2 linked regions of the Homo sapiens genome follow. The protein of the gene in region 2 interacts with the protein of the main gene of each other region in a pairwise test. Each region holds a gene or a part of one and is shown on either strand. Other genes may lie near its edges.

What was found.
Region 1: the proteins of RFXAP (region 2) and EPS8 interact in a two-hybrid assay, tested with the Homo sapiens proteins (one large-scale study listed by BioGRID and IntAct).

The regions. Positions count from the first base shown.
Region 1 is NC_000012.12:15,622,412-15,625,621, forward strand, and holds part of EPS8 (epidermal growth factor receptor kinase substrate 8), read right to left. Parts: intron 1,997-3,210; coding exon 1,816-1,996; intron 877-1,815; coding exon 747-876; intron 1-746. UniProt on the Homo sapiens protein: Signaling adapter that controls various cellular protrusions by regulating actin cytoskeleton dynamics and architecture. Depending on its association with other signal transducers, can regulate different processes.
Region 2 is NC_000013.11:36,822,180-36,826,012, reverse strand, and holds part of RFXAP (regulatory factor X-associated protein), read right to left. Parts: intron 586-3,833; coding exon 478-585; intron 1-477. UniProt on the Homo sapiens protein: Part of the RFX complex that binds to the X-box of MHC II promoters.

The sequences.
Region 1 (3,210 bases), on a different chromosome or scaffold from region 2:
AATTTATAGAATATACCTGCTAGAGATGATTATGGATCAATTTCATGCCAAAGCCTACATTCTTTCATTTGAGTCCAAGTATAATTTTCATGAAACTATTAAGAGCTGTGAGATGTAACAGTTGGAAACTACTACCCGTATATAGCACATTTTAAGTCTAAAATAGGATATTGGAAGCTTAAGTATAAAGCAATCTAGAAAACATGACTCTCCTGCTTTCATACAGACCATTGTGATTAAATACTTTTCCAGGCTCTCTATTTTCAGTGATCTCTACCTAATGTATCTTTCCCGATTATTGAGATGTATTACTAGACCTAACACACACAGCCAGGGTTTTACAATCTTATAACCTATACGTTATTAGAATCTCCAAAAAAAAAAAAATATTAAGAATAGGCAAGGATTCTGGCCTCTTAAGGCTCTTACTCACTCAGAAGCTAATTTCCATTGTTATGTCAAAATTAAATTTCCTATAGAATTAGTCAATACATATAAAATGAGAACATTATGCTTTTTGTCAAGTTTCCAAAAGTATGTGCTCAAGCTTCACATCATATGAGCATTTATAACAAATTAACCTTCTGGAAACTGTCATTGATGATCTCAGTGACAAATTTACAAAAGCAGAGTTAAATTTAATTCAGCTCTGTTAAGAAAGGGAAATTGGCCAATATGGACATAAATAGTTGTTTCCAGAGCTTTCAATTTGCAGAAAAACACCACCTTAGGTTGACAAGTCATACCTCCAATGCAGCTTTTTGTACAGTGATTTGGCTATAGACTCTCGCCCCTTCAGGGCAGACTGTCCTCAGTTCATCCTTATTGAGAGAGAAAAGTTGTGCACCATTTAATACTCCAAGACTATTGACAGTCCTAAAAAAAAAAAAAGGAAAAAGAAACTGAGCATTAAAAATATTGCCTACAAACAAAGGAGAAAATTATCTGTTCCTGCTAGTAACTTCTCTTTTCTAAGCGTTCCATACCCTGGAACCCTTATTAAATGCCACTACAGTCTTTATAGTTAGGGCAATGACAAGTTTCTTTCATGATGATGACCCTGAGGCTATACAGATTATTAATTACAAAGTATCAAAAATGAGCCAATTCGGTTTAGGGTCATTGTTTAATACCAATTCTTGGGATTTGGTGTTTTATAGAAGGAATAGATAACTTTCTAGTAACCTGGCAATTGACTAACCATTGTATCTCATTTTTCAATCATGCTGGGTAGGTGAGTTTATAATATGTCAAGGTCCCTTGAATATGTATTATTCTAATAGTTCATTGTGCCAAATACATATGAAATGTTTATAGACTTTTAGATAGATAAATAGAACCTTTACTATGGGTTTATTAAAGGAAAAGTTCTATTAAGATTATAATTGATGCTAGGTAACACTATTTTTTATTTGCCAGAGACACTATATCCTGCAGCAGGAGGAAAGCTTATGCTCTATGTCCTATGTGGTCTAGGAAGTTCAGCTAAGACCATGGTCCTACCTAGGTTACATCACAGTAATCTGATGGAGAAAAGAAGCTACTGGGCCTCAAAGCTGCCAATAGTTTGCTTAAAGAACTAATAATGAACAGATACTACCAATTCGAAAATGGGGTGGCATCAGAATAATTATTTATGCTTATTTTAGTTCTTTTTCAGCTATGAACAGCTATAGTGAGTTCTTGAGTATGGCACAAAGTATGCAGTCTGTGCCCTTATGTTTTATAACAGTTATCTGTGACATCTAACTAAGCAAATTGAAAACAATGCATGTTGTACACACAGAATTGCAAAGTATTCACAGAGAGACTCACACAGGGTTGAATCCCTTTGACTGTAACCACGTCTTCACATCCTCTGGTGTGGAGTCGTAAGTGATATTGATAACTGGCACGTTCTGCCGTGGCACATGGAATTTCTTCTGAGCGGCACTCCGACCAATGGTCAGTCTGTGGATGAGTTCATCTTGCACTTCCTCCATCTGAGATTTCCTTCCTAGACACCAACAGGGAGTAGGTTCTTTTTGAAAATCCCTAATATTACATCACCCTCTCTAGAACCCCAATCTCTATAATCCTTGACCCCAGTAGGACCTACAGTCTAGTGTTCCTACCATCTTTCCTCACTTTTATCCTCGCCTGGTATAAATGCCATGATCAATTATTAAAATAACTCCCTGGCTCTTCTCTAGTCTCTTCATTGTACTCCTTTGGCAAAACCCCAATCCTGGTTAAACCTAACTTTCTGCGTATTCTGTGCCTGCACCTGCACAGCTGAATATAACACAACAATGCTGAATGATCTCATGTTAAATTCATGATTATGAACCTTAACTTGGCTGTTAATGCTTCCTGACAATTATACTACATTTCCTTAGACTGGTGGCTCTCAACTGGGGACAGTTTTGGCCCCAGAGGACATTTGGGAATATCTGGAGACACTTTTGGTCGTCACAATTGAGGGAGAAAAAGGGGAAAGGCTGCTGCTGTCACACAGTGGGTAGAAGCCTGGGATGCACACAACATTCTATAATGTCAGCCTCTCCTACAGCAGAGAATAACCCAGCCTCAAAGGCCAAGAAGTCCTGCCTAAGGTCATGTAACTGCCCACTGTCTTAGACAAGTATTGAATATATTCTACTTTCTCTCTACAAACTTCTAACCCTATTCCCCAATCCTCACCTTGAGCTGATCTCATTTCCTAATTTATGAATAAAATAGTTAGAAGAAAACCTCCGTAAGTTCCTCTAGTAGTTCTTCCTAACAGCACTTTCCCCATATGTTCTGCCTGCCTTCCTATTATGTTATATAAGAGCTGTTTCCCTGCTCCCAAGGCTAACTATCCATGTATGCACTAGGCCTCAAGTTCTCTGCCTATTCAAATACTGAGTCATTTCTCCCTTATTTATCCTGTTATTAATTTTCCTTCTTCACTGAATCAGTTCATCAGCCTGCAAACATGCTATTATTTTATGATTTCTGTTACCTTTAAACAAGTCCTTTTTACCATGTCCTTTCCCAGCTACTGCCCATTTTTCTGCTCCTTTTACAGCAAAGTTCACGAAAAGTTGCCTGTACTAGTGGACTCCAATTCCCATTCTCCTATTTTCTCTTAATGTCGCCGAAATTCAATTTTGCTTTTCCCCCCATCTCTCTACTACACTTTGCTAAACTCCAGCCAATTCTTTCCCAGCTACTATCTTATTTAAC
Region 2 (3,833 bases):
TTTTGTAGATGGGGTCTCGCTACGTTGCCCAGAATGGTCTCAAATTCCCAGCCTCAAGTGATCCTCCCACCTGGCCTCCCAAAGTGCTAGGATTACAGGCATGAACCACAATGCCCAACCAGGAATATTTTATGTGATAAAATACCAGACACGTTAACCATAGTCTTTTATATTTGTTGTACATATTTTTGCTCTAGGTCATTGTGCAATTTGCCACCATTTTTGACTATAGCATTCATTTTTATGTAGTCAAGTTTATAATCTTTTCTCTGTGATTTTGTCTATATAAGCTAAAAAAAATCTCATTACATTTTTGAGGTAAAGTTCCGATTCTTTTTTTAAAATTTTGACTTATTAGGAATTTATTTTGATGTATAGTGTGATGTCATGAGCTAAAAATCTCAAAAATCTCAATTGTTCCATTTATAACAAACGTTTGTTAACACATTTATAACTGATTTACAAACAGATATTTACCAGTCTTTTTTGATTTAACACTTGTTCTAAAAGAGTAGGTCTTGCAGGACGATCCCCAAAAGATCCTGTTCTTTGTTTAACAATGGAGAGTATGTTATCTGCACTTTCCTGGGATAAATGATAAAAATGCAAATAGATAAACAGTTAACGTAATAAGTCATGATTACAGGTATTTCAAAGATGTAATGAACAGGTCTTTGCATTTCTTCCTTCTTCTTGCCCAGTCTCTGGGCAACTCTGGGAAAGTTCTTCATTATCATAGGCAAAGTATTGGCAGTTAATTTAATGTAACATTCCTCCTCGCTCCCTCTCCCCCCAGATTTTCAACCTGGGTTCTTTAGTCTCTTGGCAGGTCTCAAAATTAATAGTGTGTGTGATAGAGTGTGATATAGTAATACTGTGAGAGGTGGGCCACTAAGATTGAGGCAGAGTTACTTGTGAGCTATTTTCAATATTACAAAAAATGCCAAGTGGAATTGACCATTCTCTTTATATAATGCTATCCAGGCCGAAACATAATCTGCTTGCCTTTGGATGAAATATATGAACTCAGAGGCAAATTATATACTGCTCAATAAGATATCTGATAGCTTTTTACCCAGTTGGCAACCAAAACAAATGGGGGAGTAGTAAAATATTGTTTAAAGAAGCAACTGATAACCAAAGCTTTCAAAATTTAGATAAACTTGCTTGAAAAAGCACTAGTATAAATAGTCTCCTGCCAACTGTATGAACAAAACAGGTAAGTCCTAAAATGATACCATTACCCTGAGATTTCACTGCCCAAAAACAAAATCAGCAGCACTTATTACCAAATATGTACCCCCAGTTACCTGACAGCATCTTAAATACTTGTAATTTTGCTGGCATAACAAAATATTGTTTAGTTGACTGAAATATTCTGACTCTTACAAAACTATGCCACAATACCACATCCAAAATTCTTACTAAAGTAGCAAATATAAAATTATAAATGTTTTACCGGAAAGCCATACCTTACATGAATTTAACCTCTTTGTTCTTTACTTAGAATATTATCTATGCTGTTTTTTCTCTTGGGCTTCTTTCTACTGGCCTCTGAGTTATCTATGAGAATATCCCCTTAATTTCTTTCATTATGAGAAGTTTACCAACCTGATATTACAAAAATATTTCACCCCTAAACATTTTAGGCCTCAACATATAAAAACTGTAAAAAGAAAATTCTAATACCCAGAGGAAACAAAAATAATTTCTTCCTCCTCCAGCAACCCCCAAGTTGATTTTATTTATGAGATTCTTTCATTTTTATGTGCAAGATAATGGAATGCTGAAATTGACTTGATGGTACAGTACCCTCTGCCCTCACAACCCCACTATGGAAATTCAAAAGGTTAATTCACAAAATATTAGATACTGAATTAGATAAAGAAGCTTGTAGTGAAAATAACCTTTAGTCATCTAGTCCAAACTTGTACAGATGTTGGAATTCTTTTTCAAAAACCTGCAATGCTTTTTGTCCTACAGAGTTTACCAACTTTTGCCACATTTCATTTGGTTTTGAATAGCTCTAACATTTCGGTAGAATGTTAGGTAGCTTTACTTAAGCTGAGCTGAAATACATACTCCTTGTGATTTATGCCTAAGAGTCCTAGTTACCTCAGAATCATGCCATATAAGTCTACTGCTTCTCTTAAATGATAGCTTTTTAGATATTTAATAAGAACAATCCCACCAGCAGAGGTCAATTCATTTATCCCTAGTCCCTTTATGTGTCTCTCATATAGCATAGTTCTTAGATTGGTGGAGTAGACATTATACACATTTGTTCCTCATTTAACCTTGACTTGTGTAAGAAATATTAATTTTAGATACCTTAATTTCTTTAATTTTTTTACCTTAATAAATTCTTCATTGGAATAGAGAACTTAATTTCTAATCTTGCTGCTCACAACATAGCAGAAGACACCATCATCACCTGTCAGTCCTACTATAATAATCTTCGAAAGAGTCTCAAAATCTATAGGCTCTCAACTTTAACCCACTCCATCAGGGTAGGATCCTCTGCTACTTCCTAATTAGATCATTTCATTTAAAGACTCCAAATCCAAATCCCATAGCCTGGCATTCAATACTATAAAAAACTGGCTTCAACCTATCTTTCCAAATTTCTCTCTCATGAATTTTCCACTCAACTATTTTAGCTAGAATAGTCCACTTGCTATCTTCACAAAAGTGTTTTCTGTATTCCTACTTCTCTTTCTTTACTAAAATGTGCTTCTCTTTCCTTTTATCTACCAGAATTCTAGGGAAGCAGTATAGTAAGGAGGTAAAAGTGAAAGCTCTAGAATAAGACTGCTTGCGTTTGAGTACAATACTTGCTGGCTGTATGACCTAGGCCAAATTCTTTAGCCTCTCTGTGCCTCAGTTTCCATGTATGTAAAATATAGTATCTATCCCATTGCTGAAGGGTTGTGAGACTCCATTTATAGCTTAACACAGTGCTTGACACATAAGAAACTCAGCTCATTAAGCGTAAACTATTGCCCATCCTTTCTGGTTTATACTGAGTCACGTTTCCTCTGCAAAGCCTTTCTGGAGTATCTCAGCCTACAATGATCTATCCTCCTCTGAACTACTAAAACCGGACTATACAGTTGGCTCTTATTATATCCTGGCTGGCACTGTTATTTTCTTTACACTCAGTTTAACAAAGATAAAGATTTACAGATCTTGTTACCTCCTCAGAACTGATAAAGTATCCCAAAATATAAGACAAACTGGATAGTAAACTATTAGTATTATTTGTTGCTTATAGCAATTAATTCCCTTCCATAAAAAGTCATGCAAATTATTTTAAAATAGTGAAGCTAGGTGCAGTGGTGAAATAATCCCAGTTACTCTGAAGGCTGAGGCAGGAGGATCACTTGAGCCCAGGAATTCGAGGCCAGCCTGGGCAACACTGTGAGACCCATCTCTAAAAAATTAGATAAGTAAATAAATAACAAAATAGTAATAAGGTTCTTTTTGTGGGAGGTGCAGAGGGAGACGCTAATTCAGTATCTATCTGCCTTTTATACATTTTCCTCACTGTAGATGTAAATGTTAGGTAGTTTAAAAAAAAAAAAGTAAGCAGCCATAGGTTAACTACTTCTTTCTTGAAAATAAGTATTATTAGGCCGGCGTGGTGGGTCTCACCCGTAATCCCAGCACTTCAGGAGGCTGAGGTGGGAGGATCAGGAGTTCGAGACCAGACTGGCCAACATGGCAAAACCGCGTCTCTACTAAAAATACAAAAATTAGCCGGGCGTGGTGGTGCATGCCTGTAATCCCAGCTACTCAGGAGGCTGAGGCACAAGAACTGCTTGAACCCAGGA